7 linked regions of the Homo sapiens genome follow. The protein of the gene in region 1 purifies or fractionates together with the protein of each later gene. This does not show direct contact. Each region holds a gene or a part of one and is shown in the gene's direction. Other genes may lie near its edges. The genes, in order: ARRDC4, SMC2, LRP4, UBE3C, PJA2, PPP6R3 and MYO6.

What was found.
Region 2: the proteins of ARRDC4 (region 1) and SMC2 purify together in Homo sapiens (affinity purification with mass spectrometry; one large-scale study listed by BioGRID and IntAct). This does not show direct contact.
Region 3: the proteins of ARRDC4 (region 1) and LRP4 purify together in Homo sapiens (co-immunoprecipitation; one large-scale study listed by IntAct). This does not show direct contact.
Region 4: the proteins of ARRDC4 (region 1) and UBE3C purify together in Homo sapiens (affinity purification with mass spectrometry; one large-scale study listed by BioGRID and IntAct). This does not show direct contact.
Region 5: the proteins of ARRDC4 (region 1) and PJA2 purify together in Homo sapiens (affinity purification with mass spectrometry; one large-scale study listed by BioGRID and IntAct). This does not show direct contact.
Region 6: the proteins of ARRDC4 (region 1) and PPP6R3 purify together in Homo sapiens (affinity purification with mass spectrometry; one large-scale study listed by BioGRID and IntAct). This does not show direct contact.
Region 7: the proteins of ARRDC4 (region 1) and MYO6 purify together in Homo sapiens (affinity purification with mass spectrometry; one large-scale study listed by BioGRID and IntAct). This does not show direct contact.

What each region holds. Positions count from the first base shown.
Region 1 is NC_000015.10:97,967,203-97,970,702, forward strand, and holds part of ARRDC4 (arrestin domain-containing protein 4), read left to right. Parts: intron 1-811; coding exon 812-914; intron 915-1,920; coding exon 1,921-2,177; intron 2,178-2,680; coding exon 2,681-2,843; intron 2,844-3,386; coding exon 3,387-3,500. UniProt on the Homo sapiens protein: Functions as an adapter recruiting ubiquitin-protein ligases to their specific substrates. Plays a role in endocytosis of activated G protein-coupled receptors (GPCRs).
Region 2 is NC_000009.12:104,128,809-104,132,308, forward strand, and holds part of SMC2 (structural maintenance of chromosomes protein 2), read left to right. Parts: intron 1-836; coding exon 837-1,037; intron 1,038-3,200; coding exon 3,201-3,317; intron 3,318-3,500. UniProt on the Homo sapiens protein: Central component of the condensin complex, a complex required for conversion of interphase chromatin into mitotic-like condense chromosomes.
Region 3 is NC_000011.10:46,912,051-46,915,550, reverse strand, and holds part of LRP4 (low-density lipoprotein receptor-related protein 4 precursor), read left to right. Parts: intron 1-3,500. UniProt on the Homo sapiens protein: Mediates SOST-dependent inhibition of bone formation. Functions as a specific facilitator of SOST-mediated inhibition of Wnt signaling.
Region 4 is NC_000007.14:157,204,926-157,208,425, forward strand, and holds part of UBE3C (ubiquitin-protein ligase E3C), read left to right. Parts: intron 1-2,472; coding exon 2,473-2,630; intron 2,631-2,777; coding exon 2,778-3,010; intron 3,011-3,500. UniProt on the Homo sapiens protein: E3 ubiquitin-protein ligase that specifically catalyzes 'Lys-29'- and 'Lys-48'-linked polyubiquitin chains.
Region 5 is NC_000005.10:109,371,975-109,375,474, reverse strand, and holds part of PJA2 (E3 ubiquitin-protein ligase Praja-2), read left to right. Parts: intron 1-3,500.
Region 6 is NC_000011.10:68,596,752-68,600,251, forward strand, and holds part of PPP6R3 (serine/threonine-protein phosphatase 6 regulatory subunit 3), read left to right. Parts: intron 1-3,500.
Region 7 is NC_000006.12:75,755,739-75,759,238, forward strand, and holds part of MYO6 (unconventional myosin-VI), read left to right. Parts: intron 1-3,500. UniProt on the Homo sapiens protein: Myosins are actin-based motor molecules with ATPase activity. Unconventional myosins serve in intracellular movements. Myosin 6 is a reverse-direction motor protein that moves towards the minus-end of actin filaments.

The sequences.
Region 1 (3,500 bases):
AAGTTTTTATGACCATTGTGGGAATTGATTTAAAGGGATTTGTCTTTGCCAAAAACAGACACTGTTGATCCCTTACGATTCTTTATATAAATAAAAAAAAAATATTGCAAGTAACTGGGTTTTACAGAAAGCTTTGGTGTGTGTAACTCGTAAACTGAACATTGTAAATCTTGTAGTAACTTCTCTTGCCACTATAGAATAGAATACTGCAGTGAGAGGGTATGTTTAATAAGCTTTTCAGATCGGTTAACACTACACATGTTATTGCACTATTACACAAAACCCCAAAACCACTCCAAATTAAGAACACATGAAATTTCTGCTTGATAATGCATTTTGAAGTAAGTGGTGGGAAAAGGCTGTTTGTTTATTCCACTTTATTAAATGCCAAAATAAATATAATGTTCTGATTATTTTTTATTTTTATATCATTTATCCTTCCACCTGACTTTTATATATAAAGTCTTAAAAATAATTCTGTCATGTTTATAAGTCCTAATACAGCTTTTGATTTTTTTTTAAAAAAATGGTATATTATTTCCTGGAAACATAATGACTTCAGGGTAAAATAAGATGGTGTCATGCTAATTTTTGAATCTGAAAATTCACTGTAGTTTTCCTAAAAGGGGAGTCTTAACACCCTGTGTTTTTGTGCATATTTGGCCTAATATGTTACATGAGGATAAGAAAGTTTGATTCATTTTTTTGGTATTTCCTTACAACCATTCTGTGAAGATAGATATAATTTTAAGTTCTATGAGTTCTCTAGAGTGGCTTAATTAAGGTTGTTTTATTGTTTGAAATTTTCAAGACCCCTGTATTGAAAACTCAAGAGAAAATGGTTGGCTGTTGGTTTTTCACTTCTGGTCCAGTCTCGCTGAGTGCCAAAATTGAAAGAAAGGGATACTGTAATGGTAAGCAAAATGCTTGAAAGTCCAAATGAAAGATTTCATTCATTTTCTTAGCTAATTTTAAGTGATTTTAAATAGTGTTTTTTGTAATTATATGACGTGTATAGTATTTTAAAACATGAATAGTGATACATTTTTTATATAAATAATTGATATTTAAGTATTTTTAAAAGGAGGAATTGTTTCCAGTCAAACTCCTGTTTTTTTTCTGACTTCAATCCTGTTACTTTAGTAACAAAGAGTATAACTAGAGGAATGAGAAAATGCCAGCATCTGATTTTAATGTTGCAAAAGAATCTCCAGGGTTGTATTGCTAAAAAGAGAACTACTGGAGTATGAAATGCTATTAGACATTCTGATTCCATGCTGGCTTGATATATGCAAATGCATGGGACTGGAATGTAGTGTATTAACAAACTTAACAATCAGATTGTTACTGGAATTGCCATTAGTGAAGGGCCCATTTCCAGCAGTGGATTTGGCCCCTGCTCCAGGATTCTGACTTGTTAGAAAGGAATTCAGTATGGAATGGTATGATGTGCAGCCATAATGTTATAAAACTTGCCTAATCCATCCGTTGATTCTTTCTGTGCCTTAACATTATTAATTCCTTAAAAGCAAAGGCTTTGTTCTCCTGTTAGGCAGATTTTAATTTGATAAGCACTAATGAGTTTGTTAGTGATCTTTTATACTTAACATAGTCCTGAATCATTTATTTGTATGTCTTATCCTAATTTATATAGACACTGGTCATTTACATATCTTTAGAATTGCTAATGCAATATTGCTACTTTAGAAAAGTCAATAATGCAATAATTAGAAAATAAGATCTACCACAACCTGCAGTGAATTTTTATTTCTCTGGCTTGAATTTACAATATGTTTTCCATCAAAGCTTCTCAATTTGTTAAAGTGATGTTGGAACATTTCAGCTATACGGCCCTAATCCATTGTGGTGAGAACTTTTTCAAGAGTCTCTGAATCCTCCCTGGTTTTGTTTTCTTTTTAGGAGAAGCTATTCCAATCTATGCAGAAATAGAAAATTGTTCCTCTCGTCTGATTGTTCCAAAGGCTGCTATTTTCCAAACGCAGACATATTTGGCTAGTGGAAAAACAAAGACCATTCGACACATGGTCGCCAATGTGCGAGGAAACCACATCGCTTCTGGGAGCACAGACACATGGAATGGGAAAACGCTAAAAATCCCACCTGTTACTCCATCCATCCTGGATTGCTGCATTATCAGAGTGGACTATTCCTTAGCTGTAAGCAAAGCTCTTTTTTAAAAAAAAATGTGTATGATGGACAATAACTGATGTCATGTTACTGTGGGTATGTAGAGTTGCCTATAAAAATGTCATTTTATTTCAGCATTAACACCAATTGGGGACTGTATGAAGATTGGCCCTTGTTTTTAATAAAACCTATTCCCCACAGGGGATTTAATAGAATGCCATAAAAGAATTGAGGTGCATTAAGGGGTGTTTGTTATATTGAAGACATAGCCTTAATTTTCTATAATTATTATATAAGCCATGCAAACCTACAATGATGCATGTTAAGGACACAGTTCTCTGTCACAGAGCATTCACTATGTTTTGTGTACTCTTCATTTTGTTTAATCAAGACAATTGAGAATTGTGATGGGGGTGGTGGCAGCCGACAAAAGCATTTGTTTCTATGAAAAAAAGAAATTAATTGGGCTACCTACTGGAGGTGTAGCTTACATTTGTTCCTTTCTCTTTTTTTTTTTTTTTTGGCTTATTAGGTATACATTCACATTCCTGGTGCTAAAAAATTGATGCTCGAACTGCCATTAGTGATCGGTACAATTCCATATAATGGTTTTGGCAGCAGAAACTCCAGCATTGCCAGCCAGTTCAGTATGGATATGAGCTGGTTGACACTGACCCTGCCAGAGCAGCCTGAAGGTAAAATATGTTGGCGTTCTTTCATAACGAAGCTTTACCTAGAAAATACCTAGGAACAGAATATATACACTATTAAGTGCTCAGATGTTGATGAGTACTGCTACTATAGGTATCTTTATTCCTACTACTAAAAAATCAGAAAGCATTAGTCCTGGGAGGGACTTTGAAAGTTTAGCTTTATCTAGGACGCAAAGCTGCTGATAGCAGATTCAGGAATAAGATGTACATTTCCTAATTCCTATTTGTAATAGGAAAACAATGAAAAACAGTCAAATGTATGGTGTGTTATGTCTTTTCTATAGTCATATTTCAGTGATATTTGTTTACCTATATCTCAAGAGACTAGAATAGAAGCTATTAGTAGTAGTTTAATAAAAGGAGAATCTATTTTTTATTGTAATATGCATAAAACCTTGCTGATTAGAGGGAAAGAATGCCATATTTTTTATCTTCAAGTTTAGCTGTTTCTTGTTTTTGTAGCAGTTAAGAATCGAGATTAATTTTTGAGTGGATTTCTTAACTCCAACTTCATTTCTATTTCAGCACCACCAAATTATGCAGATGTGGTATCAGAGGAAGAATTCTCTAGACACATTCCTCCTTACCCTCAACCCCCTAACTGTGAGGGAGAAGTGTGCTGTCCTGTGTTTGCCTGTA
Region 2 (3,500 bases), on another chromosome or scaffold:
TGTGCCTTTTTCAAAAGGTGGGGAGCAGGATAGAGTCAATGTTTAGGGCAGTTTCTTAGAATATATTTCTGAGAGAAAAATTATTAGGTCTCAGTCAGCATTAGGCTTCCATGATTTTTACCAAATCTATGACTTAAGTATTAAAAGAGTTTTAGCTTCTCATAAGTTGTGTTTTGAAGCAATAGATTGAATTTGGTAAATTCTGAAGGAGTTCTACCTGACTTACATTTCATTCTAATGGAGGTGCTTTGCGTATACTTCGTAAAAATTTCTCTGTGAGTTGGCTCTTCTAATGCCAAAGTAATAGGAAGATCTTTTGCTATACAGTGTCTTGTTTCTGTAGTCTGTGTTCCAGGTAAAAATATTCATCTTTATTCTTGTCAGTAATGAAACTCATTTTTAAAAATGAGTCGCCTAGGCACGGTGGCTCACGCCTGTAATCCCAGCACTTTGGGAGGCCGAGGTTGGCAGATCACCTGAGGTCGGGAGTTCCAGATCAGCCTGACCAACATGGAGAAACCCCGTCTCTACTAAAAATACAAAATTAGCTGGGCGTGGTGGTACATACCTGTGATCCCAGTTACTCAGGAGGCTGAGGCAGCAGAATCACTTGAACCTGGGAGGTGTAAGTTGCGGTCAGCCAAGATCGCGCCATTGCACTCCAGCTTGGGCAACAAGAGTGAAACTCCATCTCAAAAAAAAAAAAAAAATTAGTCATTGAAGGTTTTTTCCTCTTCAGTATTTGATTCAAAAGTATTAAATAGTTAAGAAACTGGCTTATACATATTGGTTTGTAAACATTCATAGATCTCCCATCTATTTTTATATGTGGCTAGGTATCCAAAATGTTGAAAGATTATGACTGGATTAATGCAGAGAGACACCTCTTTGGCCAACCCAATAGTGCCTATGATTTCAAAACTAACAACCCTAAAGAAGCTGGTCAGAGACTTCAGAAGTTGCAAGAAATGAAGGAGAAACTAGGAAGAAATGTCAATATGAGAGCTATGAATGTATTGACAGAAGCTGAAGAGCGAGTAAGTCAATTTCTTATGAATATCTGGCCGCATTAGAACATGACTAGCATTGACAGCTCTGTATGACCTCTGATGCAATTATTAGAGTTAACCTTTTGCAGATGTCCTTGATACTTTTCTTTCTGCTTTCCTTTTTCTCTTTTCGTCATTTTTTTCTTATTACTCTTATGCATCATTAGTTGTTTTTACATTCTATTACACCTGGAATGACTTTTTCACTGGCTTTTGTTCTTTGTCAAACATAATTCCTCACATTTCTATCATTTCATTTCTTTCACTTGCATTGAAAAGCCTTGAATAGGATATACTTCTGTCATCCTCTTGACTCTACTGTATACTGAAACTATATAAGTAATGACTAAAGCCATTATACACATAAATACTGTTTCACTGATCTGTAAATTCTGCAGCCTCTTCTCAGTTTTAATGCTCTCAATTACTCAATAATGTTATTCTTCCCTAACCTGACAAAACTTTGAGTCTGGGAAGGGAGTTTACTGTCATCTAGTGATGAACTTGGGAGGACCTATCACTAGAAAAACCCAGTGGGGGAAGCATTCCCTACTCTTAAGATAGCCATAAGAAATGGCTATCTTAGTAATTTTATATTAATGCCCCTATTAATGCCCCATACCTTCCTGAATGCTGGAAAATTCTGTTTGAATTTGCAAATCAGAGTAAAATTCATGAGAAATCTGCGACACTGATAATAGCACAGTTACTTTGAAGAAATTTTACCATAATTTTTTTTAACTGTTTTTGGCATGAATATGCACAAAGAGTCTATATTATATTAGATACCAAACAGATGAATCATGCAGGTATTGTGATCTCTCTAGAAAATGCTCCTGCTGGTTTTCATTTCTACATTAAAGCTTTGCAATATGTGATATATTTGTAGAAGGAAAACTTTGGTCTGAATTTGATCTGCATAACATGAAACTTGTTCACTTTTACTCGTTTACTTCTATTAGATGAGACCTGAGTCTAATATTTTTTTCAAAAGAATTTATCAACTCCCATCTCTTTACCAGAGGAGAAGCCTATATTGTTGATCAGCAGATGGCCTTTTTTTTTCTTGTGTTTTGTATCTATCTACATAAGCAATTACATGGATTTTCATGAAAAAATAAGATAAAAATGTAGAGAGAAGGTTAGGGGAGCGTGGCTGTAAAGAAGAGGGACAGCAAGGAAAACAGCAGGACTGACTAGAATTGTTAAAGGTGAATGTGAAGCCTCCTTGAAATGTAGGGCTTTGAGGAGAAATGAATTAGGAAGAGTTTTAGGAAGTCCCATTGCTGTTCATGGTATGATTATCCCTCTACAGCCTTGCTTGAAGGAAGACTACTCTAAAGTGGTGATATTTGAGCTGAAATTTCAGGCAACCGTTATGTCAGAGAAAGAGCATTCCAGGAAGGGAGAATAGTGCAGGGGCCATAAGACAATAGTGAGTTTATTATGTTCAAAGGAGCTGTAAAAGACCATATGGCCAGAACCTGGGGAGGAGTTTAATGCCATAAAGTCAAGGGATAAATAAGGTCCAATTCCCTTTATCCTGATGCATACAGGGCTTAAAACCTGGTTGATTGGTGCAGCAAGCCATCATGGCACATGTATACCTATGTAACAAACCTGCACATTCTGCACATGTATCCCAAAACTTAAAATTAAAAAAAAGTAAGGTCCAATTTATGTGGTTCCTATATATCATGGTGAAGGATCAAAATTTTGTTCATGTCACTGCTAAGGCTGACCTTAAGAGGAGAGCTTTCAGGGCTCCTTTTACTTAAGTTTATATGTAACACTTTTTTTTTTTTTTTTTGCCTTGGCTGCTAAGGAGATAAGGGAATATTAGTGGAGTCAAAATATTTTAAGGACTTTGTCTTATAAATTCTTAGTTCTAGTAATTTAGTTATATACATATGGATGATTTTATTCCTAATTTTGTTAAGAGTGTGTATATGAGTGTGTATATACACACACATCATACAGTATATGTATAGTATATGAGTATATATAATTCTTAGTGCATTATATCTTTTTGGTAAATAGCAATGTATGTATTGTATATAAAAATAATGAAAACTGTTTATTTCTGACCAAATTCCAGAATATAGAAGAGATTTTATATTTTCCCAGTTAACCATGTTTTTTATCTCATAGTACAATGACTTGATGAAGAAGAAGAGAATTGTAGAAAATGACAAATCCAAAATTCTTACAACTATAGAAGACCTTGACCAGAAGAAAAACCAAGCCCTAAATATTGCATGGCAAAAGGTACTTTTTATGTTTGTTTTATATGAGGTTGCAAGGATGAAAAAATATCATCAGTGGAGTTATACTCTATAAGAAATTTGAAATAGCTGATCTATGTTTGAATGAGGCACATATTCACACCTTAATTAAAACCTCTGACTTTTAAATGCATTTTTTTCTTTTTGAACTTGACTACTACCAGAT
Region 3 (3,500 bases), on another chromosome or scaffold:
AAAGTTTAAGGTGCTTATTTGGATGCTGCTAGTCCTTGGGGCTTTTCCTAGAGCCTATTGGTTTGGACTCAGCCCACATAACTCTCCAACCTTAAAGATTTTGGAAGGAAACTTGATGGCTGGTAATAGCCCTGAGTGATTTTCATCCTGAAGTTTGAAGTAAGGGCATGGATGACAACCATTGGAAGAGTGGAAAGTGTGTTTGTTCTAGAGGTCTCATCCAGGTAAGGGAAATGTTAAAACTTCTGCCTAGGCGTGCTTGGGTAGATAGAAGGTTGTATCTGAAAATAAGTGCAGAGCAATTGAGCTGAGACTGGTCTCCTTTCCATCTCGCTGTTGTCGTGACCAGGGTTGTCATGGTGCTTGAGTGACCTTGTCCCTGATCTGTTGGGCTTGTGAAACATACTTGGCTTGTCACTGATTTTGGATTTCCTCTTCTGTACCCTGATGAATATCAGATAACATCTTTTGGACTGGCACGTGGTATTAAGAATGACAGGTGCAAGGGAACCAAGTCTGGCCATGTCTGATACAGAGCACGTTGGGTATGTCCATCTTCTGGGCCAGCAAAGAACACAGGAGGTCACAGAGGACACGGTGTTTTATAGCTCTTTGCTCACTCTTTCTACCGATTAACTGCCAGTCTTAACTGTTAGAAGGAAAATAGGAGAAATTGTTTATGTTGCTGCCCCTTTAAAGAAAAAAAAAATACTGGGGGTTCCTGAATAGGAACAGAATTTCAGGGACTACTTTAAGAAGTAATCTTGTCTTTTTTATGATTGGGTAAGATTACGAGACAGTCTGTGCCCTTGGTTGACTAGGTCTGTTAGCCTGTTCCAGCCATGGTCTCTCTACATTCCTTGATGCAGCTTAGCCACGAGTTTTGTCACAGTTGCCTGGACATGGGGCATCTGGGCCCCAGACTGTGTCTGGACTGCCATCTCATCTTCAGCAGCGGAAGCCCTCCTCCCCTCCTCAGCCTGTGAGGATTCAGTGTCCCAGGGAAGACTCAGTGCTGACTGGTTAGCTGGCAGAGCCTGAGTTTGACCTTATAAATAGTTCTGATGACTGCATGGGCTTGTCACTCTCACTCCAGCTTAGAGCTGGCAGGAATGAGTTCCTCGTACAATCGGGAGCATTCCTCAAACTAGGCTCCACACCCATTCACTTGTTCATTCATTCAGCAAACACACATATGTCAAGCATTAATATAATCACTGTATACGAAGCTCAGCAATTAAGAAGCACCCACAGACCTGGGTTTGAATCTTGGCTCTGGCAATTCTTGGTGACCCTGTGCAAAATCTCCCTGAACCTCAGGGTTGTTACCTGCAAAGGCGGGTAGGGTAGGGGAAGGGAAGTAGTAATAGATTATCACATAGGAATATCATAAAATTTACCTGAGATAATAGCATGTTCAAACTATGCAGCACAGAGCTTGGCAACTACTGTGTTACTGTAGAGCTTGATAAAAGTTAGCTGTAAGCAAAGTCACCTAAGTGGATCCGAGATGATTCTTGGCTTTAGAACATGGGAGCCAGGTAAATAATTATGCTACCGTGTTCTGTGCTAAAATTGAGACTTGGTCCTTCATTCATTGCAGCTGGTCTTTTGCTTGTCTCTTTTAAAGATCTGCCCCTTCTTTCTCCCCTTGAAAACGTGATAGAACCGAAGCATAGTTCCCACTTGTGCCCACTCCTAGAAAAGAAGTCTGCTAAGCTATAACATCAGTCTAGGGGAACTCATGTCGCCTTAGTTCTCTTGAGAGAGGTCTGGGGAAATGGAGCTTTTCCTCTGAGAGTTTCCCTTCTTAAGTGGTCAGGGATGCAGCCTAGCAACTTCTCCTGCTAAGATTCCTGTGACATGGGGTGAGAGGGGCTGGCCAGGGACTCTTGTAGCTGGAACAGTTTAGAATTCCAAGCCCTCCCTCCCATTGGCCTGAGAAAGGAGTCAGGCTCCAGAGCTCATAAGGTAGTAATTGCCCCAATTTGGGAGCTGGGCTGTTGTGGAGCCTTCGCAGCTACCATTTTCAATCAGGAAGCCTGTCAGCTTGCAGGCCTAATTGATGTGGGTCTCCAGCCCCGAATAGCCCCCAACCCCTAGTTCCTCCACCTCAAAGTTTGACCCCTGTTGTCTCTTTTGTTTCTTCTTTTTAAGTTGGTGCCAGTGATGTGATTTTTGGGAGCTGCGGAAAGTTGACCGTAACCAAGAGCAGCTGTTAAAAAGAGCCAATTCTCTAGCTTCCTGACGGTTGTCTGCCTCCATTTTCTGTTGTGCGTTTTTGATTTAGCAAGAAGCAAACATCCTAGGTGCCCTTGGGCGCCTCTTACGCCCATCCAAGCAGACTTCATTCTTTCACTGCTCGTAGGCATTCCCATTCTTGCTCACAGATGAGCGGACTGGCTGTTAGCGCTCCCTGACACCCTGTTTCCCCATGCGGAATAGGACTCCCCCATCATTCAGGTTCGAATGAGGGGAGGGGCGCTGTCTGGGACCCAACTGGGGATAGCCTGGCTGGGACTTGCTGCAAGCCCTGACTTGGCCTATGGGAGCTCCCCCTCACCTCTATGCACAGCTGAGGATCAGAGCGGCAAGCAGAGCCGGAAACAAAAGACTGGGAGCAAACCTCCCATCTAGCTGAGAGGCAGTGACACAGAGGTGCTGCTGCATAATTTATCACCGGAGGTTTTCTGGAGCCGGGAAGCTCCTGGCTCCAGGCAGTGCCTTTTTGCGGGAGAGGGACCCTCCCTCTGTCTGGGTGTAGGGCAGAGCAGGTACAGAGAAGGGTATCCAGAGAGACACCTGATTAGCATGTGAAATAAAGAAGCTGCAAGGTTGTAAGTGCCTCCAGGGATCTCTCCAAGCTCGGCAGCTCCACTTCCTGTCACGCCTTGGGGGAGGTGGGGAGGGGTAGTGGCCTGCAACCACGCGCTGGCATGGATGAGGACAAGAGACAGCTTCTCTGTTGAGTTGACTGTAGCCTCCTTCTAACCAAGTGGAGAGGCCAGGTTATGGCATCCACAAGCCTAGCAAATAGGAAAGGGGAGCCCCAGGTTTTCCACCCTCCTTCCACGGGCAGTTTAAACAATAAGTTTCAACTACAGGCTCCCAGAGCCAATAAAAGCCAACAACTCTACAATGTATCTTCCCCAAATGAGAATTTCTGCTCTTCTAGGAATGATCTCCTCCAATGACAATTTTTGCAAATTGTGGGATATGTGGATTTACAAATTGGGATATGTGGTTTAAAAAATCCAAATGTATTTCTGGAGCAGTTAGCATTTTTGAGAGCTTTGCTGTGTCCCTGGTACTGTGATAAGCATTTAGTATATGATATCATATTTATTCCTCACAATATCCTTATGAGGTAGGTAACATTAGATTCCCGTCTTACATTGGCCAGGTGCGATGGCTAACGCCTGTAATCCCAGCACTTTGGGAGGCTGGGGTGGGTGGATCACTTGACGTCAGGAGTTCGAGACCAACCTGGCCAACATGGT
Region 4 (3,500 bases), on another chromosome or scaffold:
GTGGTTCCCACAGGCACGCAATTTGAAAACCCTTGTTCTCAAGATCTAGACAGAGGTTAGGGATTGCCTCGGGTCTCACTGATGGTCAGTAATTCACCTAGCTCCCCTGAGTTATGTGTGAATCAGTGTCTTTTCCATTACAGTAAGTTGCAGACTTTATTTGCACATAAGTCTTTGAGACTGACCTGTTTTCAGAGGAATATTTGAGTCAGTGTTTATAGCAGAAAGAATGGTCAGCAGAGAACTAAGAGACCTGTGTCTCGTTTGTGCCCTGTCTGCAGGGCAGCATTGGCACATATCCTTGCCAATCCCAGTTTTTGTCATTAAAGTAAAAATGATGCATTCCTTTTGCTTGTTTCACAGGGGGTTTGAAGAGGACAAATAAGTTTTTGTTGGTTAATTACCCTGTCCCTTTTTTTTTTGGACCCAATATAAGAATTTTATGCATCCTGCAATATGTGTGCATAACTGATGATGTGTTGGTGGTGATGATTCTTGTCAGGGATAACAGTACAAGTACAAGGATTCTTGTCGGGGATAACAGTGGAAAGCAGGCTCATCAAGACGCAGGAGTGGGCTCCAGCTGTCATAGGCAGGGCTGTTGAAAGAAGCCACCCCTGTCCAGTTAAGGCAGCCCTGTGCCTTTTTTATCCTCCATATAAACAACCTTTTTGTGTCATCCTGGCTTTGGCAATGAGGTAGGACAATTGTGCTTTGTCCCTTTTTGAATGTCCCACAATGTTTAAATTTTGGAAGAATGGCATTCATTCATTGATGAATCTGTTCAGCATAGTGCTAAATGCAGAGTATCACAACTGCAAACATGGATCATGTATGCTCAGGTTGTGTAGCATGTGGACATAGTGTATCTTCTCTGTGGGAACACAGTTTCAGGTGCACATATGGGTTCCTTTTCTCAAAGCGGTTGATGATGGCAGTGCCCTCCCCTGAACCATGCACCATGGAGACTCAGAAGCTCCAGGTGGCTCAGCCAAGCTCCTTACGGCCCCGCTAATTAGAACAAGTGGCCTTACCTTCTGCTTTGCTTTCATACATGATTTGTAGATCCTGACTCCTGGTTACATCTCATCTAATATATACCTGTAGTTTTGTGGAAATGGATATTTGGGGAGATAAGAGAGTGATCTTGCTCACAGTGTCTGTTAACCTGTGATTGATTTGACTTGGTAGAGGGGACCATGGACTTTATAGAAAGAGCTTGCAGGTGAGCCTATTAGCTAAAAGTTCCATAAGACAAGGAACCAGACTTAAAAACGAGAGAAAAGGAAGAAGTTCTAGGTGAAATAAGTCAATTTAATATATCGTAGCTCTTTTTTATTTATTTATTTTTTTTGGAAACGGAGTCTCGCCCTGTTGCCCAGGCTGGAGTGCAATGGCACGATCTCGGCTCACTGCAACCTCCGCTGCTCGGGTTCAAGTGATTCCCCTGCCTCAGCCTCCCAAGTAGCTGGGATTACAGGCACGTGCCACCACACCCAGCTAATTTTTTGTATCTTTAGTAGAGATGGGGTTTCACCATGTTGGCCAGGCTGGTCTCGAACTCTTGACCTTGTGATCCACCCACCTCGGCCTCCCAGAGTGCTGGGATTACAGGCGTGAGCCACCATACCCAGCCTTTTTTCTTTTCTTTTTTTTTTTCCTTAATATTTTAAACTTCTTTGAAACAGAGTCTGGCTCTGTTCCCCAGGCTGGAGTGCAGTGGCGCAATCTCAGCTCATGGCAACCTCTGCCTCCTGGGCTCAAGCCATTCTCCTGCCTCAGCCTCCTATGTAACTAGGAAGGACTACAGGCACCTATCACCACACCTGGCTAATTAATTTAATATATCATAGCTCTTGATGGGTGAAAGGCTGCTGAGTAAAGACCACCTTAGCTGCTGTGAAAGCAGGAGCAGGATGGGAGCTGGTGAATAAAGTGGACAGTGGGAGCAAGGCCACCATAGAGAACTGGAAACTTTGTTTCTTGAGGTTCCAGTTTGGCTTCAATATTGAATAGCTTTCAACGTTACCAAAAGTTAAGTCGCTGGATAAATTTTTCCTGAGACCAGAATGATTTGCCTTTATTAAATATGTTGAGTAGAAGGGAAGGGGGATGGTTTCCTCATAAGAGTAAAGTACATGTGTGTCTTGAATAGTGGCCTTATTAGAGCTCTTCTTAGGGCCTTAGTCTGGGAACGACTGGCTTACTCTTAGTAACTTCATTATCTAGTTGGTACAGGTAGCAGAAACCTTAGTGAAGATTAATGGGTTGGTATGCTATTTTTTGTATTAATCTATGCTGTTTATTAACCTGCATTGCCATGGTGACTTTACCTTGCCTTTAAATAGTTTAATTCCTAATGCAAATGTTACTTTCCCTGATTATATTTGTTTGATGTTATGTTTTAATTAGTTCCCAAACTAAGACTAATTTTAAAGTGACTGGTTTTTTTCTTCTTTTCTTTAATTCAAGGTCTATGGTACCGTTGCTTCAGGTGATATCCAGGGGTTCTCCTATGTCTTTTGAAGATTCTAGTCGAATCATCCCACTCTTTTATCTTTTTAGCTCCTTGTTTAGTCATTCACTAATTTCCATACATGATAACGAATTCTTCGGTGATCCCATAGAAGGTAAGGATTTTGAGAAACCAGTTTGCTGCTGGCCACTTGGCCCATCAGTTTTCATAGACAGTAGAAAAGTTTTAAGCTTTTTAAGTCTTTCAGTGTGTGTTAAAAGATGGAAAAAGAAACAATAGAAAACTGGATTGTGTTTTTTAGTTGTAGGTCAAAGACAATCATCAATGATGCCTTTTACTTTAGAAGAGCTGATAATGTTGTCTCGATGCCTTCGAGATGCATGCCTGGGGATCATCAAGTTGGCTTATCCAGAAACCAAGCCAGAAGTTCGAGAAGAATATATTACAGCATTTCAGAGTATTGGAGTTACTACTAGCTCTGAAATGCAACAATGCATACAGATGGAACAGAAAAGATGGATTCAGTTATTTAAGGTATAGAGTATATGTATTTTTTTGTTTACTGACATTGAAAAATGTACAAACTTTTGTCTTGACTCGTTGCAGAGGAATAAAAATGCAGGTTTGTTTCAGACATGTTTTAATTTGCAAGACTTTTTTTTTTTTTTTTTTTTTTTTTTTTTTTTTTTTTGATACATGGACTTGATGTGTCTCCCAGGCTGGAGTGCAATGACACCATCATACTCCACTGCAGCCTTGAACTCCTGGGATCAAGCAATCCTCTCACCTCAGCCTCCTGAGTAGCTGGGGCTACTGGCACATGCCACCACACCCAGCTAATTTATTAGTTTTTTTGTAGAGACAGAGTCTCACTGTGTTACCCAGGCTGGTCTCAAATTCCTGGCCTCATGGATTCCTCCTGCTTCTGCCTCCCATAGTGCTGGGATTATAGGCGTGAGCCACTGCAGCTGGCCTATATACCTTTTTAATTAAGAAAAGTAATTTTAGTACTTTTGATTAATTA
Region 5 (3,500 bases), on another chromosome or scaffold:
GTGCAGTGGCGTGATCTCGGCTCGCTGCAACCTCTGCCTCCTAGGTTCAAGTGATTCTTCTGCCTCAGCCTTCTGAATAACTGGGACCACAGGCATGCCATCATGCCCAGCTAATTTTTGTATTTTTAGTAGAGATGGGGTTTCACCATGTTGGTCATGCTGGTCTTGAACCTGTGACCTCAAGTGATCCACCCGCCTCAGCCTCCCAGAGTGTCAAGATTACAGGCGTGAGCCACTGCACCCGGCCAGCATTTTTAGATATAGGAATTTTGGCTACTTTTTAAAAATATGAATTATATATTCTTTTTAAGTAGAAAAGTATTTTAATGAATTCATGATTGCCTTCTTCCCTGAAAAATTCTAAATGATCATTTAATCACATCTGAAATGTTACACTCTGTGGGATAAACATTGCAGCCAGTAGCATTGCTCTGAGCTGTTTGACAGGTACTGAGCACCACCTTATTAAATTAGGATTCCAAGGGGAATTTTAATAGGCAGCATATAATTACCAGACTTAGAATTAGACCAAAGAGCTAAGGTTAATACCCTGCTCTTTTGAAATATACCCTGAGAAGTTTAGTAACTGTTTGAGGACAAGATCTTGAGTTTAAAAAAAACCTTTCAGCAATACTAGCATATCTTAACCTTGGGCCTAACTGCTCTGAAGAGAGGCATGCCATCTACTGTCTGTTCCTTACTTATAGCATTTGAGGTTTCTTGCAGAATTTTTGTGGCCTTAGGACTTAACTTTGCTTAAAATTTAAAAACCTTACTTAAGGTAAAATGTTGGGACAACTTACTTTGTTGATGATGTTGGGAAATAAAATGATTGTTAGCCATTTAGTTGACTTCAATATGATATATTAAAGGATTTGTTGAAATCTTAAGTGCCAGACTTTGTTCCAGGTGCCCTGTTAATACAAATCATAATGGTCCCTGTTCCCACAAGGTTCACTAGCTTTATGAAGAAGACAAAATATACGTATTTATTATTGTGAGGCTGAATTAAGCGCCTTTCCTGTTCCGTGTAGGTTACCTGAGAGCCACAAAGAAAGAGTTTGTCTGAGAACTTGGTACTACCCCCAACAAATAAAACATCTATATGCAGCCAAGGCACAGATCTTAAAGCATATGTGCTGACATTTTAGCAAACCTTTTTATCTTGTTTTCAAGTTCATAGAAGTTTGGAAGGAGCACATTAGGTATAAATGTGTTTGTTCTGCAGATATGCTAGGGAGTTCATGGGATTACAATAACCTGATACTAAGGAAAAAGACCAGAAAGTGACAAAAAGCAGGCACAATGCAAAAATCATAGCCATCTTAATGAAATTAAGCAGACTTATATATTTGGACATAATCCATTCATATCACTGTATTACATTACAGTTCAGTGTTAATAGTGGTAAAAAGTTCCAGAATGTTTAGATTATGTCAGATAACAAAATATTTAAAATTTCACTTTTTCCTAGGCTCCTGTAGTTGAGTTTCTTGTGGCTGTGATAAATGCCAGGAAGAACAAAGTAACAAGTACCTTGGGGAATTATGGAATGAGAGATTACTTTTGGTTGGTTTTATGTTTCCATAGCTTATTTCTGCCTAGGATTTGTACATAAATTTTGTCTATAATTTCATTCTGTATATCAAGTTTTTTTAGTTCACAATTGAATGTGTAGAGTGTAACATTTGAGTAAATTATAGTTGTCTGCTTTTTAAATACAACTCTTAGGTGCTAAAAGGGATCAGTACCAGTGAAGGATCATATGAAGATCAAAGTAGTACTTAATTTAGTTTTTACTTTGAGAACTTTTAAATGTGTCATTCACCCGCTTTTAAAATCTAGAACAAATGGATCTTCACTGTTCCATGATCATTTTTGTGTCCTATTTGTTCTGTTGCTTACTCCTTAAAAAGTGATTTTTAAATCTTTTCCCTTTTTTCCTTCCATGTACTCCTGTCACTCCTAATGGTTAGCTTCGTTTCTTATTTTCCTGTAGAAGTTAAAAATATGTAAATGTGAATTTTCTTATTTTCCTCTTCTCCATATTAGGGGATAGTAGTATTTATTTGTATTTTTAATTTCCTCTTCAATGAAGAGAGGTAGCCCCTCTCATTCTGTGCCTCTAGTTATTTCTGACACTTCATCTAATTGTCCTTACTCACAGGTTGCTTCCCTCTGTCTCTCAACCTTGAGTTTTTCTCAATCTTGAAGAAAACCTTTACTTTTTCTTGCTCTGTTATTTGCCTGTTTGTGTTTTCTTTTCTACTGCTGAATTTTAAGAAAAAGTTTTCCATACCCACTGTCTCTATTCTGTCACTATCCACTCTTCTTACTGCCTTGAAATCTAATTCCTAATATTATTTCTGTATTCTTTTTTATTGAGACAGTCTCGCTTTGTCACCTAGGCTGGAGTGCAGCGGTGCAATCTCAGCTCACTGCAACCTCCACCTCCTGGGTTCAAGCAATTCTCCTGCCTCAGCCTCCTGAGTAGCTGGGACTACAGGTGTGCACCACCATGCCTGGCTAATTTTTTTTTCTTTCTTTCTTTTTTTTTTTTTTTTTTTTTGAGACGGAGTGTTGCTCTAGTTGCCAAGGCTGGAGTGCAATGGTACCATCTTGGCTCACCACAACCTCCACCTCCCAGGTTCAAGCGATTCTCCTGCCTCAGCCTCCTGAGTAGCTGGGATTACAGGCATGCGCCACCACACCCAGCTAATTTTGTATTTTTAGTAGAGACCAGTTTTCTCCATGTTGCTTAGGCTGGTCTCGAGCTCCCGACCTCAGGTGATTCACCTGCCTCAACCTCCCAAAGTGCTGGGATTACAGGCATGAGCCACTGCACCCGGCCCTATATTCTTTAATGTCAGTGGTGACCTCCTGATTTCCACATCCATTTGTCTTTTCTCAGTACCCATTTTCTTTGATTTCTCTGCACTATTATGAAAAATAATTGCAATGTTAAAGAAGCAGCTGTGTTGTAGTGAGCTGCACTGAGTAAACAAGAAGTCTAGTTCATGAAATAATTGAAAAACAAAAGAAGCGATTTTATACAGGAAGGTCTTGAAAGAAATAGAGTCTGATCTGTGTTTGGAAGTGGGGAAAAGGTGAAGTGATTATAAAGATATTCCTGATGGCAAGAATGCCCACTTTGAGGACACTGTTTGAAATAGAGCATTCTTGAGTTGGATGCAAGAAAGTACTGGGATCAGATAGCAGTAAATTATAAGTGTTATTCAAAGACATTTAACTTTTTATTCTATAGGTCACTATTTCCAAAGTGGGTAAAATATATTAAGTGGTACACAATGTTTTTAATTTAATCATTATGTATTTATGTTAATGGAAATTAAGAAAATATAGGTAGCACATCAAATTCAGGACTTAATGGCTATTGCTTATCCTAACTAAATGTATTTGAGTTTAAAAAAATGTTAAAAAAAGACTCGCTAACAGTTATTGATGGCTCATTATTTATCAGGCATTGTGAAAATGTTTTA
Region 6 (3,500 bases), on another chromosome or scaffold:
ATACTTCAAAAACTTCTAAAGGTTTGGGAAACAAACGTTCATGTGAAGGAGCCATATGGGCTGATAGCGAGGCTTGCCCCAAGCCTGGCCAGTCTCTGATTGCCCTGCAAGGCCTTTTTTATGTTCATCCCAGAGGCTGAAGCCCAGCTAGGGTGGACCTTGTGGTGACTTCAGAGCTAGATGGGACCAGATCAGTCATCCAGCAAACTGCCACATGTTGCAGATAAGGAAACGGGATGGGAGAAGAAGAGAGATCTTCTTTCTGCTGCCTGTTTTCCAGCCCACCCTCAGGAGGAGGAAGTGGACTTTTCTGTCCGTAATTCAGTTTCAGTCAACATGCCTTTGTCAAGTTCCTACTGTATGCCAGGTGTTAGGCCTGTAACTGTGAACGGGCCACAGACTCTGCCTCCAGGGGCTTGGGGTCGGCTGGGGAAGCAGATGGGCAGTGCAGGGGAATGGGTACAGGGTGCTAGAAGAGGGGAGCCTTCCATTAGGCCTCTTTGTAGAGGCAGGTGGGTATGAGGCTGAAGGACCCGTAGGGATTTGCCCGTGCGAGAGAGAAAACAGCTAATCCAAATGCCCAGAACGTGCTGTTTTGCATGGCTCGGGGATGAGGTGGCGGGAGCGAAGGCCAGAGGCCAGATCAGGAGTTGTATTCTGAAGGTTGTAGGGAGCCCTTGAGGATTTGACTAAGAAGATCATTATTGGTTCTGTTTCAAGACATTCATGGCAACAGTGAAAAATGGACGAGAAAACGCATGGTAGAGACAGGAGAACCATGAAGACATTGAACTGTTACACATGAGAAATAATGAGAACTGCAAGATGGGCTCCAGGCAGCAGGGAGGTGTGAGGAGGAGACAGGGCAGATGCCCTGATCTGTTGGCTCTGGAATCTGTAGGGTTTGTTGTTGTTGTTGTTGGTTTTTTTAATGTACAGTTCAAGGTTGGGTGCAGTGGCTCAGGCCTGTAATCCCAGCACTTTCTGGAGGCCGAGTCAGGCGGATCACTTGAGGCCAGGAGTTCGAGACCACCCTGGCCAACAGGGTGAAACCCTGTCTCTACTGAAAAAAAAAAAAAAAAGCTGGGCATGGTGGCATACACCCATAGTCCCAGCTACTCGGGAGGCTGAAGCAGGAGAATCGCTTGAACCTGGGAGATGGAGCTTACAGTGAGCCAAGATCATGCTGTGCACTCCAGCCTGGGCGACAGAGTGAGACTCCATCTGGGGAAAAAAAAAAAGTACAGTTCAGTAGTATATTCACACTGTTGTGTAACAGGTCTTTAAAACTTTTTCATCCTAAACTAAAACTCTGTACCCATTAAACAATTCCTCATTTCTACTTCCCCAGTCCCTAGCAGCCTCCATTCTACTCTCTGTTTCTCTGGGGTTGACTAGTCTAGGGATCTCATATAAATGGAATCATACAGTATTTATCTTTGTGACTGGCTTGTTTCCCTTAGCATAATGTCTTCAGAGTTCATCCCTGCTGTGGTGTATACAGGATTTCCTTTTGTTCGAAGGCCGAATGACATTCTGGAATCTTTGGTTCTTTTAGCAGGCTGGGTATGGTTAAGTGACAGGGAGGGAAACACACTTGGCTGGACTGCGTGCCGCTGCTGCTGTGACTGTGGGCCTGGGTGTAGGGATAAGCAGCGAGGAGGCGAGCACCCTGGATGAGGTTCGCGTTTACCTACCTCCCGGGGTTAAGTGTGGCAGGGAACCAGGCCTCCTGCTTCTCTGTTCCTTGGGAAAGACAGCTTTTGCATCTTCAGATCTCTGGAGACACAAGTGGGTAGGGTTGGGGAAGATTCTCTCTCAGGGCTTCAGGGCTACAGGGTTGCCCCAGAGAGCCTCTGCCATTCCACCAGTCTCTGTGGCTTCTGTTGGAGGTTTTGTGGACATTCAGAATCATTTAAAATGTTACACGGACTCTGAGGAGCTCATCTGGGAAAGACTATCTCAAAGAGATAACAGAAAAGTCATTTGTGTGTAATATAATTTAGTTGTAGAGTAGAACTCAGATAGAATGATTCCAGAGCTTTGCATAGAGTGGGCAGGCAAAAATAACTGTCAAGTTGACTTTTTGGAGGTTTCAGGTGAGATTTTCAAACATTCAAGCATTTATTCCTTCTTGGTGTCAGTGGAGCCCTGTGACACTCACACAGGTAGGTGGGCAAGAAGCATGGAGCGCACCCTAATTAAATGCCTACTCTGTGCAGGCCCTCCTGTGATCTTTGCTAAGTGAATAGTCATTATGAAATCAAACAGATGAAGTCAGATATCTTGGGGAAAGTCACAGTCAAGTCTGTCTTTAAACTCAGAACATTTCTATTCTACACGGGTACTTCTTAATCTTAGTCACTTGTGTCTGGGTTAAGCCCTTAAATAACTTATACCAGTTTCCCTAGCATTCCTTCCTGCAACCTAGAGATTCCTAATTATGATAATATCCCTGATGGAATGCAGTGGTTCCCACATCTGGCTTGTCCCCAGCAAAGAATTGAGGATTCAGCACTCTGTGAAGGAAAAGCATGGTGTGCAGTTAGAGCAGATCCACAGTGACCTGACTTCATCAGAAGGGACACATGTCTGAGGAGGTGACATTTAAGGAGAGACCTGCAGATTAGACCCAAACTTGGCCAGCAGGCAGCATAGTAAGAAGAGCCCCACAGACCGTAAGTGTGCTCAAGCAAGTCCTGCCGCTTCAGCCTCTGAGGCCAGACCTGGTTCTGCAGGACTTAGGAAGCCTAACTGCAGTGCACTGCAGGGAGCCCGCAGAATGGGCGAAGTGCAGTCAGACCCGGACTGGGAAGCATTAAGGTTATTTCTAGTTTATTGGAGTTGAATAATCAACATGTTCTTTTTTTAGAAAAATAACCTTTTTACTTTTGAATAATTTAGATTTATAGAAACATTGCCAAGATAGTAAGTCTCCATATATCCTTCACTTAGCTTCCCCAAGTATGAATACAGCCATGGTACATTTGTCAAAACTAAGAAATTAACATTAATCCCTCTTTGTGCATGTAGCTTTGAATCTCTGTGTAGTATTTCTTTTGGAACAGTTGTTAGAAATGGGAGGTTTGAGGCCAGGCGCGGTGGCTCACGCCTGTAATCCCAGCACTTTGGGAGGCCAAGGCGGGCGGTTCACGAGGTCGGGATATTGAGACCATCCTGGCTAACACAGTGAAACCTGTCTCTACTAAAAATACAAAAAATTAGCCAGGCGTGATGGCGGGTGCCAGTAATCCCAGCTACTCAGGAGGCTGAGGCAGGAGAATGGCGTGAACCCGGGAGGCGGAGCTTGCAGTGAGCGGAGATCGTGCCACTGCACTCCAGCCTGGGCGACAGAGCGAGACTCCATCTCAAAAAAATAATAATAAAAAGAAATGGGAGGTTTGAGAATGTGGGATCATTGTTAGAGTGCCCTCCAGGTGGCTGTGCCCTGTCCGCTCCTGCCCTCATTGGTGAGAGTGTCTTTCTCCCACAGCTCCAGT
Region 7 (3,500 bases), on another chromosome or scaffold:
TAAAACGTACTGTAGTGTCTACCACGGACCAGGCACTATTCTAAGTTCTAGGGATACAGTGATTAAATTAAGACCAAGCCCCTGTACTGACATTTTATTGTTGTTTTGAATTAAGTTAATTATAGACTCTTCATACTAGGATGTAATCAACAGGGCTGACCCTAAAGTTGGGAAATAGGCAGTTGTCAAAATTGTGCAATTTAAAGGCTACTGCATGACTTACTTGCTCTGGAATATTTCTGACCTATCTGTCGAAGACTCCCAGACTATTGGGTTATGGCGCTGTTACCAACCTGCTTTGATAAATATAAGTATGTTCCATCATTTATCACACTTTTAGCAAAGAAAACTGAGAGAAAATAAATGGGAACTAGAATTGGACACGGTGATGCTTACCTGTAGTCCTAGCTACTCAGGCGGCTGAGGCAGGAGGAATGCTTGAGCCCAGGTGTTTGAGGCCAGCCTAGGCAACATAGCCAGATTCTGTCTCAAAAAAAAAAAACAACAAGCAAGCAAAAAACAAATGGGACTAGGACTGATATGTTGGTGTTGTAAGAGAAGAGGTTAGCAAAGTATAATTTTAATAGCAGCTATTGTTTTTTCTTTTTTTTTGAGACGGAGTCTCGCTCTGTCACCCAGGCTGGAGTGCAGTGGTGCAATCTTGGCTCACTGCAACTTCCGCCTCTCGGGTTCAAGCGATTCCCCTGCCTCAGCCTCCTGAGTAGCCGGGATTACAGGTGCTCACGACCATGCCTGGCTAATTTTTGTATTTGTAGTAGAGGTGGGGTTTCACCATGTTGGCCAGGCTGGTCTCGAACTTCTGACTTCAGGTGATCTGCCCGCCTTCGCCTCCCAAACTGCTGAGATTACAGGCATGAGCCACTGTGCCTGGCCAATAGCAGCTATTGTTTATTGAGCTTTTACTACCATGTCAGATATTATGCCAAGTGAGTATTTTTGTATACATTAGCTCAATCACTGTGTCACCTCAGTGGTGCTGGTGTTATGACCTTCATTTTACAGATTAGGAAACTGAGGGGCAGAGATGTTAAATTTGCTCAAGCTTATTTGGTGGTGCTGGAATTTGGGTCTCTGCTAGTACTAAGCAGGTAGTAGATACTAATGTGGAAAGAGTACTTATGTGTGTTGTGTGTGTATATATATATATATATACACATATATATACACACCATATATAGTGTGTATATATGTGTATATATGTATACACACATATATAGTGTGTATATATGTATACACACATATATAGTGTGTATATATGTATACACACATATATAGTGTGTATATATGTGTATATATGTATACACACATATATAGTGTGTATATATATGTATACGCAATATGTATTGTGTATATATGTGTATATATGTATATACAAGAGTACTTATGTGTGTTGTGTGTGTGTATGTATATACACACATATATACACACATATATTGTGTATATATGTATATAGACATATATACATATACATATATAGACATACATACATATGTGTGTGTATATATGTATATAGACATATACACAATATATGTGTGTGTATGTATACACACACATATACATATAGAACATATATACATATACATATAGAACATCAGAAGTCTGTGTGTGTGTGTGTATATATATGTATACACATATATATACACACACACACATAGAGACAGACTTCTGATGTTCTGCTAGGATGTGTGACACATCACAGAGGTGGGCGACCTTGGTGTGGGAGTGATGGGTGTGGGGAGTCAGGATAGCTTGTTGGGTGAGGGGTGGGAATTGGGGTTGGAAGGAGATGGGAGGGTATTACTTGCCTAACTACTTGGTCGTCAGGCTTAATCCTCTCTCTGACAGCCCTGGGGTTCCAGAGTTGCGTTTAAGCACAGTGCTTTCTTGTCCAGCTCCTGGGTAAGAGGATAGGCAGACCTGAGGCAATCCTGGTTTTGTCACTCATTAACTTGGTCAAATTATTTCATTTCTCTAGGCTTCAGTTTTCTCATCTATAAAATGGAAGTAACAATATTACCTACCTGGTGTGGTTCTTATGAGGATTGAATTAGATAATAATACATGTAAAACACAGATCACACTGGCTAGCACATAGTGTACATTCATTATTATTGTTGTTACTGTGTTTTTTTTTGTCATGTTTAATGTGGAATTTTCATCGAAAAGCAAGAAGAGCAATATATTAGTGATTTGGTTGGAATCTTGAAGTTGGCTTTTTTTTTTTTTTTTTTTTTTTGAGATGGAGTCTCGTTCTGTTGCCCAGGCTGGAGTGCAGTAGCGCGATCTTGGCTCACCACACCTTCTGCCTCCCAGGTTCAAGCAATTCTCCTGCCTCAGCTTCCCGAGTAGCTGGGACTACAGGCACGTGCCACCATGCCCAGCCAATTTTTGTATTTTTAGTAGACACGGGGTTTCACTATGTTGGCAAGCTTCCCTTTTGATTTATGTGCAAACTGGAATTAGAGAACTACTAGCTTAAACTTTTTCTTTATCTTTTGGTTAGGGAGGGCTTCAACAAGATTAACGACAATTTGCTTGGGTTAACCAGGCAGTATGTGGTAGAGGGAAGTGAAATATGTTACCAGAATCTCTTCATTGACTTTTTTTTAAAGCTTATTTGGGGCTTATAGCATTGTATGGAGAAGACAATGCAGTGTTAAATTTCGCACCTAAATTAGATTGTAATGACTGTTTCAGCTTTTTGTTTGTTTGTTTGTTTGAGATGGAGTCTCGCTCTGTCACCCAGGCTGGAGTGCAGTGTTGCCATCTCAGCTCACTGCAAGCTCCGCCTCCTGGGTTCACGCCATTCTCCTGCCTCAGCCTCCCAAGTAGCTGGGACTACAGGCTCCCGCCACCACGCCCAGCTAATTTTTCTTATTTAGTAGAGATGGGGTTTCACTGTGTTAGCCAGGATGGTCTTGCTCTCCTGACCTCGTGATCTGCCCGACTCGGCCTCCCAGAGTGTTGGGATTACAGGCGTGAGCCACCGCGCCTGGCCTGTTTCAGCTTTTTAACTAGCTTCATTCGGAGGTGATTAGTTAATATTAGTTAAAATTGTTAATTTTTAACGATTATACAAATAGTAAAAATGTATAAATACATGTTTGTATAGATCTTTTTTTTTTTTTGAGATGTAGTCTCACCCTGTTGCCCACGCTGGAGTGCAGTGGCATGATCTCAGCTCACTGCAATCTCCCCCTCCCAGGTTCAAGCGATTCTAATGTCTCAGCCTCCTGAGTAGCTGGGATCACAGGCATGTGCCACCATGCCCGGCTAATTTTTATATTTTTAGTGGAGACGGGGTTTCACCATGTTGGCCAGGCTGGTCTCGAACTCCTGACCTCAGCTGAGCCACCCGCCTCAGTCTCCCAAAGTGCTGGGATTACAGGAGTGAGCCACAGCGCCCGGCCGTTTCTATAGATCCGGTCATTTCTATAGATCTTAAAAACTTTCAAAAACTTAGATTTCTTTAGATAATG